Homo sapiens: one gene and its partner. The protein of the gene in region 1 purifies or fractionates together with the protein of each later gene. This does not show direct contact. Each region holds a gene or a part of one and is shown on either strand. Other genes may lie near its edges.

Evidence for each region. The genes of interacting proteins can lie anywhere in the genome.
Region 2: the proteins of OSTN (region 1) and FAM107B purify together in Homo sapiens (affinity purification with mass spectrometry; one large-scale study listed by BioGRID and IntAct). This does not show direct contact.

The regions. Positions count from the first base shown.
Region 1 is NC_000003.12:191,218,509-191,224,304, reverse strand, and holds part of OSTN (osteocrin precursor), read right to left. Parts: intron 5,559-5,796; coding exon 5,344-5,558; intron 1-5,343. UniProt on the Homo sapiens protein: Hormone that acts as a regulator of dendritic growth in the developing cerebral cortex in response to sensory experience. Induced in the brain following membrane depolarization and inhibits dendritic branching in neurons of the developing cortex.
Region 2 is NC_000010.11:14,530,105-14,535,012, forward strand, and holds part of FAM107B (protein FAM107B), read right to left. Parts: exon of another isoform or gene 4,324-4,908; intron 3,365-4,323; exon of another isoform or gene 3,182-3,364; intron 2,846-3,181; exon of another isoform or gene 2,772-2,845; intron 2,611-2,771; exon of another isoform or gene 2,544-2,610; coding exon of another isoform or gene 2,483-2,543; intron 412-2,482; coding exon 228-411; intron 1-227.

The sequences.
Region 1 (5,796 bases):
GCCATTCTCAAGTGATTCTCCTGCCTCAGCCTCCCAAGTAGCTGGGATTACAGGCATGCACCACCATGGTTGGCTAATTTTGTATTCTTAGTAGAGACGGGGTTTTTCCATGTCGGTCAGGCTGGCATCCAACTCCCGACCTCAGGTGATCTGCCCGCCTCAGCATCCCAAAGTGCTGGGATTACAGGCATGAGTCATGGTGCCCGGCCTTATTAATACATTTCTTTCTATTTTCTGGCATTCTTTGTAGTTTCTCTTTGGTAAATGATGTTGCACTGTTTTTCATTTTTAAGTTATTTTTTTTTCTGGTATCGTTTGTTCATTCTTTTACTATTATCCATCCTAAATCTTGTTATTTTTAATTGCATCTCTCAAATACAGAAAAGTATTTTATTTTCCTTTATCAGCAAGTCTGAAAACACTGGCATTTTAATAGGCAAGTTATAGCCATCCACATTTATTGATATAATAGATTTTTAAATCATATTTTAAAACTTACATATGAGTTTATTACATACAGGATTTCTCTGTATTCTATTTTATCGTGCTTTTTTTCATAGAGAAATTTTAGTTTTTATTCTTATGATTATTTTTGTATTAATATTTTTATATAATAATCTTGCACCTCTCTGTTTTCAGTTTTTGTCTATTGTTATTTAGTACAAGATTTATAAAATTCAGTTTGTAATGTTTTCTTTCTTCTTCAGTCCCCAAGCATCTATTTGTTGTAATAATTTTTTATTTTCAGTTAATAGCCGTGAAGCAATCAAATACTCATTCCAAATTTTATGTACTATCACGTTTTACCTGAAAGTTTGATGGTTGTGCTGTATCTGTTTTTTCAAACCGTGTACTATAACACATTCTCTTTCTTGCTACCATCATTTTACTTTGCTTTTAAAGTTAATGCTCACACCTAATTCTAATGGTGATATCTCCCCAGCCATTTGGCTTGCCCAAGGTAACTCATGTATTAGCTTCCTCAGGATATGCTCATGGAAGGAATATTCCCTAAATTTTTGCATATTTATAATGGCTTATTTGTAGCTTTCATACGTGAAAATCTGTTCAGATGGCTATTAAACGCTTGCTAATTTCCCCTTTTTTCTTGCAAGCTGAGCTATATTTGATAGCTAGCTAGATAGATTATATCACCTAGGTAGTTTCTCATTATGGTACTTTCTAAAGAAATTATTATGGTTTATTAGTCCATTCTCACACTGCTATGAAGGACATACCTGAGACTGGGTAATTCATAAAGGAAAGAATTTTAATTTAATTTTAAATTTAAATTAATTTAATTTTAATTCCCCACAGGGCTGGGGAAGCCTCAGGAAACTTACAATCATGGTAGAAGGAGAAGCAAACACATCCTTCTTCACGTGGTGGCAGCAAGAAGTGCAGAGCAAAAGGGAGGGAAAGCCTTTTATAAAATCATCAGATCTCATGAGAACTCACTCACTCTCATGAGAACAGCAGCATGGGGGTAGCCACCCCCATGATTCAATTACCTCCCACTGGTCCTTCCCATAACACGAGGGGATCATGGGAACTAAAATTCAAGACAACATTTGGATGGGGACACAGACAAACCATATAATTCCATCCCTGGCCCCTCCCAAATCTCATATCTTCCCATTTCAAAACATGATCATCCCTTCCCAGCAGTCCCACAAAATCTTAACTCATTCCAGCATTAACCTAAAAGTCCAAGTCCAAAGTTCATTTGAGACAAGGCAGTTCTCTTCTGCCTATGAGCCTGAAAATCAAAAGCAAATTAGTTACTTCCTAGATACAATGTGGGGGGACAGGCATTGGGTAAATACACCTGTTCCAAATAGGAGACATTGGTCAAAATGAAGGGGCTACAGGCCCCATGCAAGTCTGAAATCCAGTGGGGCAGTAAATTCTTAAAGCTCCAAATTAATCTCCTTTGACTTCATGTCTCACATCCAGGTCATCCCCTCTTGGCTGCTTTCACGAGCTGGTGTTGAATGTCTGTGGCTTTTCCAGGTGCACAGCAAAAGATCTACCATTCTGGGGTCTGCAGGATGGTGGCCCTCTTTTCACAACACTACTAGGCAGTGGGGACTCTATGTGGGAGCTCCAACCCAAAATTTCCCTTCTGCACTGCCCTAGTAGTGGTTCTTCATGAGGGCTCTGCCCCTGCAGCAAACATCTGCCTGGGCATCCAGTATTTCCACACATCCTCTAAAATCTAGGTGGAAGTTGGCGAACCTCAATTCTTGCCTTCTGTGCACCCATAGGTAAAACAGCATGTGGAAGCCGCCAAGGCTTGGGGCTTGCACCCTCTGAAACCATGGCCCCAGTTATACTTTGGCCCTTTTTAGCCAAGGCTGGAGTGGCTGGGAAGCAGGTTACCAAGTGCAGGTTCCTGGACCTGGCCCAAGAAACCATTTATCCCTCCTAGGCCTATGGCTCTGTGATGGGAGGGGCTGCTGTGAAGACTTCTGACATGCCCTGGAGATATTTTCCCCATTGGCTTGGTGATTAGCATTTTGCTTCTAGTTATTCATGTACATTTCTGCTGCTGGATTAAATTTCTCCCCAGAAAATGGGTTTTTCTTTTCTACTGCATCATCAGGCTGCAAATTTTTCAAACTTTTATGCCCTGCTTCCTCTTGAACACTTTGCCATTTAGAAATTTCTTCCACTAGATACCCTAAATCATCTCTCTCAAGTTCAAAGTTCCTCAGACCTCTAGGGCAGGGGCAAAATGCTATCAATCTCTTTGCATTGCAAGAGTGACCTTTAATTCATTTCCCAACAAGTTCCTCATCTCCACCTGAGACCACCTCAGCCTGGACTTCATTGACCACATCACTATCAGCATTTTGGCTAAAATCATTCAACAAGTCTCTAGGAAGTTCCAAACTTTCCCATATTATCCTATCTTCTTCTGAGCCCTCCAAACTGTTCCAACCTCTGCCTGTTACCCAGTTCTAAAGTTGCTTCCACATTTTCAGGTGTCTTTATAGCAGCACCCCACTCTCTGTGGTACCTGTTCTTATGTTGGTATGAAGGACATACCTGAGACTGGGAAATTTATAAAGGAAAGCGGTTTAATTGACTCACAGTTCCACAGGGCTGGGGAGACCTTAGGAAACTTACAATCATGGCAGAAGGGGAAATAAACATGTCCTTCTCCACATGGTGGCAGCAAGGAGAAGAGCAGAGCGAAAGGGAGAACGCCTCTTATAAAGCCATCAGATCTCGTGAGAACTCACTGACTATCACAGGAACTTCAGCACGGGGGTAACCACACCCATGATCAATTACCTTCCCCTGGGTCCCTCCTATGATACATGGAGATGATGGGAACTACAATTCAAGATGAGATTTCAATGGGGACACAGCCAAACCATATCATGTGGTGAAGTTTCAATGTAAATTATATAGTATTTACGCAGTGTATATTTAGTATACTATAGTATTTATGCTATAATAAATTTATAAATATTTATGTACAGCATTTATATATTGATTTATAGATTATTTAGTTGACCATGTTGAAATATCCAGGAGCCAAATAAATAACATTTATTAGAAGGCACCATATTTTCTTCTCTAAAAGCTCAACTATTCTTTGGATGCCGATGTTCTTCTTTTTAGATTAGTTTTTAAACATATATTTATTTTTGATATACTTACCCAGCAGTGGTGGTGCTGGAACATACGGTAGCTCAATTTTTAGTTTTCTGAGGAACCTCTAAACTGTTCTCTATAGTTGTTATACTAATTTACATTCCCACTAACAGTGTACTAGCATTCTCTTTTCTCTTCATCATTTCTTGTATTACAATTTGTTATAAATAATACTATGTTATCAATTAGTATGTGATTTTTTTTGAGGTATGTAAACTATATTTTTCTCCTCTTTTTCACCAGAACCTAACATAGTACCCAGAACATAGTGGAACTAATTTCTATTTCTCTAGTTAAAGTAGGGTCTAAATTTCAAAATATAGGAGAGGATTATTTTTCACATACATGTAGTATAAGGTATGGTCTTCAAATGATGATTTTATTTTCTAGTGTAGCTTTGAGAATCTTTCAGAACAGAGGTATAGCAAATTGCGACAAGTATCCTGATAATCATTTAGCATAAAAAACCAGGGAACCAGGAACAAGAATGAAAAGTCCCAGGTCTCTAAGAATTAAGAAAGATGGTGGCAAAGGATGTGAAAATGAGTACAAGAAGAAATGAGGTTCCAGATTATGAAATTCCCTGTAGCTCTTGCAAAGGAGTTTGACTTTTGTACTGTAAGCAATGGATAACATTTCACACAGACTTTTGTTTTAGATGATTAGCCTGCTAGCCGAGTACAGGATACGTTGGTGATAAAGGGGTGATGATGGTGGTGGAGGTAGAGATGAGGAAAGAGTGGAGAAAGAATAAATGTTAAAAAAATTTAATAATTTAGGCCAGAATTAGAAAAGCCTTAATGAAGAGTGATATTCTGGAGATATTTAATATGTAAAGCAAACAGTATTTAGAGAATTTAGTGAGAAATGTTCAGGATGAGCTAAAGGAATCTTGGTCAATTTCCCAGATTCCTGTCTATGGTACTTGTGTGGTCTTTTGTGCCACTTCTAATATGAAATGTACAGTATGAAGAACAGATATTGAAGGGGTAGAAAATGAACTAAGTTTGGAATGATTACTTTAAATTACTGACATAAAGGGATATTTCACTACTCTAAATCCGTAATTAGCATTCTATGAAGCACTTACATTTGATTATCTCATTTGAATTTTATGGAAGCAAGTAATTATTCTCACTTTATGCATAAATAAGCTGAGGATCAGAGAGGATAAGATACTTTACAAGTCACATAGGAAGAAACAGAAATTTGACAGAAACACATGCGTTCTGACTCCACGTTCTGAGAACTTGTCACTCAGATTCATTCACACAATGTGGAACGGTTTGCATCACAGGTAAAAACCAAAGGGTATTCCTGTTACCTCTAGTAAATGGAAAACTCAGTTCACCAGAACATTTATGCCACTGAGCATACATTTTGCGCCACCTCCCAAATGCAGTAATGTCTTATAATAACTGCTTTATATCTGCATAAGACAGAATCTTTCTTAGGAAACATGACAAAAATGCTAAGGCACACTGCGGCAGTCATTTTGCTCCCTAAACAGTTACTTAGAAAACTGTATTATTAAACCTACAGATTAGCTAACATACCGTCAAATCTGTTTATATATACAAGGTTTTCACTGTATTTTTCATGTGGAATTCTCTCAGATTTAGAATCCAGAAGGAAATAATTAGAAAATAAAAACTTTCTTTTTCTGAGTTCACTTACCTCTGTTTACCTTTGTGATCTACAGAGCCAGCTGAGAGTCTGTCAAGGGGAGACCCAAAACCAGAGAAACTCCTTTTCTTCTTTGTCTCAATCACATCATTTTCTAGGGACACCAATTCATCAAGAAGCAAGAGTTTTGCTGTCAGGTCAGTGGCTGATTTCTCTTCCCTGACTGTGGGTGTTGACTGCACATCTATGACTCCAGAATCAAAGGCCTATAAGGCAGAGAAAGGCGATTCCGTTAATTTAGACAAAGAGACTCCAAGTATGTACATATGCATCTGGCTTTTGCTACTGTTAGCTGACATACTCATCATGTAACATCTTACAATTTTTTTGAGACAAAGTTTTGTGCTTGTTGTCAAGGTTGGGGTGCAATGGCGTGATCTCGGCTCACTGCAATGTCCACTTCCCAGGTTCAAGCAATTCTCCTGCTTCGGCTTCCCAAGTAGC
Region 2 (4,908 bases), on another chromosome or scaffold:
CTGCAGGAGTCTGGAAGCACTGCTGGCCACCACAGTGATGGCCACCTGCAGGGGATCTGCCTCACGGAGGGGTAACCCGGTTCTAGGATGTGAGAAGGAATAAGAAAGCCTTAACAAAGTGCAAGAAATCAAAGACTCTTTGAAGCCTCTGTAAATACAATTAAAATTAGATATCATGATCTTAAAAGTCCTCTTAAAAAAAAAATATGCTCAAGAAACCATTTTACCTTTTTTGATTCATAAGAAGTTCTCTGTGAAGATCTTGATGGTTCCGGGAGGTTTTTACAGGATTGATCAGTTTCTGAGGCCTAATGAGTTCAGGATTGTCATCTTCTATGTAGTCTGGCTCGGCCATGATGCTTCTTGTAATGAGATATGAGTCCTTATGGTCAATATCCTCAGGTGGGCTGTCTGAAAGAGAAAGATGAGAAACACTCATTTGCAGTTTTTGCTAAGGCTTTTCCCACACATGCAGAGGCCCACAGAGCTGTGCTCAGTATGCTAACACATGCCATCCTCCTGAGTCCACTCTGGGGCATCGCTGATAAATATTCTAAAGCGCTTGGAATGTAACTGGGCTGGGGCAGGGAAGAGAATGGTGGCCTGGTCTCGTCTTGCCCATGACTAAGGCCAGGGAGCCCTGTGGCCTGACTTCTATCACTGCCACTGCCACAACTTGGGTTCCGGTCACAAAGGATGCTTCCTGCCACCCTGTCTCCATATCGACCTCAGAACAAGCACTTGAGTATGTCAGAAAAAAAGAAAGTTCAAATGAAAATTGGAACACTGGCCCACAATGGCTGCAGTTGGACACATGTGTCAGGAAAGAGGGGCCTATAAACTAAAGCTGGCCTCTTGCCTATCTTACTGGAGTTTGTTAAATATTTCACTGATGGTTATTGGTCATAAATCTGTTTACCAGATACAGAACAAAGACGGGATGGAATCAGTCACCCTCCACCAGACTCTAAGATGCCTAACCTTTCTCCTACCCACTCAGCTGCATATTTACCTTATTTATCTTATGCACAGCCTCTGTGACCACCAATCACAATCACAGGACTGAAACCGCTGCTTCACTGCCTGCTTCGCCCACCGCTGTGCCACATGTATTCCCCTGTTACAAAATACAAGGCCGAGCAAGGTGGCTCATGCCTGTAATCCCAGCACTTTGGGAGGCTGTTGTGGGAGGATCACTGAGGCCAGGAGCTCAAGACCAGCCTGGGCAACATAGCAAGACCCCATATGTTTAAAAAACATTGGAAATGCCCTGGGCATAGTGGTACATGCCTATAGTCTCAGCTACTCAGGAGGCTGAGGTGGGAGAATCACTTGAGCCCAAGAGTTGAGAGGCTGCAGTGGGCTATGATTGCACCACCGCACTCCAGCCTGGGTGACAGAGCAAGAGCAAGACCTCATATCTCTAAAAGAAAAGAAAAAAAAAAAAAAAAAAGAGGCTGGGCACAGTGGCTCATATATGTAACCCCAGCACTTTGGGAGGCTAAGGTGGCTAGATCACTTGAGGCCAGGGGTTTGAGACCAGCCTGGCCAATATGATGAAACCCTGTCTCTACTAAAAATACAAAAAATAGCCAGGCGTGGTGGCGTAGTCCCAGCTACTTAGGAGGCTGAGGCAGGAGAATCGCTTGAAGCCAGGAGGCAAGAGGTTGCAGTGAGCCGAGATCGCACCATTGCACTCAGCCTGGGAAACAGAGAGAGACTCTGTCTCAAACAAAACAAAATAGAAAAGGAAAGGGAATGAAACGTATATATATTGCGCCTCACATAACTTACTTTGGAACCCATTCTCAGTCTACACTGAGTCTGTGTTCTCAGGCTTAAGTAAGTCCTCAAACTTGGCTCCAAATAAATCTAACTGCGATTTCTCTAAGTTTTAGTGCTTGTTGTTTCACTTGTTGGTCAATAGGCACCGGACCCAGGTCCTTTACTGCTAATCCTTCAGCCTCAGCAAATCAATCTATGCTACAAACATATCAATGCTGACCCTGTGCCAGTGGAAAAGGCTTCTAGTTCTCAGCACGGTGCTCGCTGGCCTGTGACACTGCTCACTGTCTCCTTCCTTAAGCACCTTGTGGGCTTCATCCTGCTTGTATCCTTCCAGGCCTTTCCTCAAATGTCACCTTCTCAGAGAGGCCTGACCTCCTAGCTGCCCTGCTGAAAAGTATGACCCTGCCCCCAGCACCTCCCCGTGTTATGTTCTGTCCACCAAACCAAAGCAACATCTTTACAAAGTTAATGTGAAAATAAAGAGAATGAAAATCCAAAGGCTAAGTCAACTGAAAAATAATGTAGCTGCAACATTTGTTTAAATATCTTAAATATCACTCCATGATTAGGCTCAAAATTATCAAACAGTAAGGCATATATAATAAATTACACCAAACATTCCTCAGACACTAGTTGCATTGCTCTTTTAACAACAAGAATGCCTGCAACCTGAACTGAATTGAGAATTACAAACCTCGCAGAGGGTGACTCAGGGAACCCATCACAGCCAGCCTGATATCAACACACTGTCCCATGGAAAAACGTGCTCCTCGGCAAAATCCTAAATGCACTACATACACCTCTGCTCAGCCACAAGTGTCTGAAAAATCAACTGCAGTTTCCTTCTAGTTAATCATAGACCAAGAAGGCTACACACTTCCATAAAAGGCTCCGTATTTCTGCCCTTCACCATAGATAATCTCCACGATGCCAAACCCAAACAGACAACTGCCTCTGACCTTGACCTCGTTATTACATTTGGGGAGGAGCTGGAGGGAATGTGACAGAAGAGCGGGCCGTGATCAGCAGCGAGAAGAGCGCATGCAAAGGCCACAGGGTAGGAGGGTGCCTGGGGGGGATGAGGAATGGCAAAGCGCGAGGCTGGCTGCAGGGGAGGGAGGGATGGTGAGGATATAGAGCGTGGGAACTTGAACACCAGTGCTGGCATTCTGGTCTTCACCCTGAGGGCCATGGGGAGTCATTTCCAGGTTCTGAGCAGAGTAATGACGGTATCTGACTCATGAGTTAAAAGATTACTCCAGCTCCCAGGTTTAGAACGGGCTGCAGGCAGGCAGGGCGGCAGATGCAAAGGTCATCCAGGTGAGAGATGCTTTAGACTCACGCAGCAGCAGCATAGGTAGGCGGAGAGCCTGATTCAAGATGTATTTTAAAGGTAAAGTCTCTGGGACTTCCTGAAGGACTGGACACGAGGCGTGAAAAGCACTGAGGAATCAAGGATGACTTGGAGGTTTCCGGCCTGAGCAACCAGAAGGCTCAAGTTGCCATGACGGGAGGCTGAAAGAGCAAGTGGATCTAGGACGTGTCGAGTCTGAGACGTCTGATCGACATGAAAGAGGTGACATTGAGAGGGCAAGTGCAGCCAGCGCTCAAGCCTGGGTGACTCGCTCTCCTTTACCTGACTGACTCGCTCTCGTTTACCTGACTGACTGGCCCTCTGCAGTCTCAGGCTTTGCCTGCCCTCCGCTTTCCGTCCCCTCATCCTCTGTCCCGCACTCCCACTTCCCCCTCAACTAGAGACAGCATAAGATGCCCACTCAGCCTTTCCTGGACGTCAGTGTTGAGGTGCAAACATGACTTGGGCCTTGTTGCCAGGAGGGAGGTTGAGCTTCCAGTGCACAGAATGAAATGACTTTAGTTCTGAATCTAGGAAACAGGCCCTAGCTTGGGATGTTTTTCTGACTTCTCTTTAGATTTAGTTGCTTGGAAATCTTTCTTCTCACATAGGACCAGTGGGGTGAGGGGCACCCAAGCCTGTCTCCTATTAGAGAGACACGGGCACTGCGAGCCGGTGCAGGAGGGGGGGGCTGCGGTTGACTTTTCAGACACTTGTGGCTGCACAGAAGTGCGTGTAGTGCATTTAGGATTTCAGCCCAGGAGGATGTTTTTCCGTGGGACAGTGTGGTGAAGTATATGTATATGCTGTCAACACAGGGGCAAACATCTTCCTTCTTTTTCACTGGTTTGTCCTTCTTCACAACTGGAGCTGGAAAAGGGGGTGCACAGGAGCCTCTCAGTCTGAGTTAAGCATGGAGACCTTAAGCCTGTCCTCAGAACAGGTGGCATGGTCCCTGCAGCTCCTCATGCAAAGGCCACACTGGGGTCTGGGAAATGGTCATTTAGTAACAAGGGGGTGAACGGGCCGGAGCAACCCCCTCCTTGAGTCTTTGTACTCAGGGCAGTGGTGGTGGCGGGAGAACCATGTGGGATCTGGGTTCCAGCTGCTTCTCAGTGACACCCCGCCCTGGAGCTGTGACTAACACATGGCAATAACCATCACTATGACCTTCTTCACAGCTCTCTTCCCTCTGCCAGCCATCCTGCTCACTGCTACCAACGCTGGAAAATACAACTCTGGTATAAGGCAACTCTTGCGTCTCACAAATCCTATCTTCCGATCAAGCTGAAACAAATGTTCTTGCTCCCCACATCCTCACACCCCGCCTTCCCTCCACCAGCATGCTTACAGCAGCACTGCACCCTCCGAAGGCGTGCTGAGGCTTTTCCCACCGCAGCCCCGGATCTCCACAAAGCCAAACTCACGCATCCAGCAGATCCAAATAAATGCCGCATCTGCCCTGACGCCTTCCCAAATTCTATGGGATGTTCTTTGTTCTTTTTTCCTAGTAATTCGTCAACCACCGCCTTGTATTATAGCAATGTGGATATAAATCTTATCCTCTCTTCACTGCAAAGAACATGTCTGGTTTATGTTCCTATTCTTTTGACCCCTTGGACCTGTTCAGAAAGCATTACTTAAATGAAGTAACAAAGGCATGGGCTAACGACAGAGGGTGTCCCTGAGCCATTTGGATTCCACCGCCATAAGGTGTAGTGCAGAAAGTGGGGTTGAGCGGCCAGGTACATTTCCTCTCTGAGCAA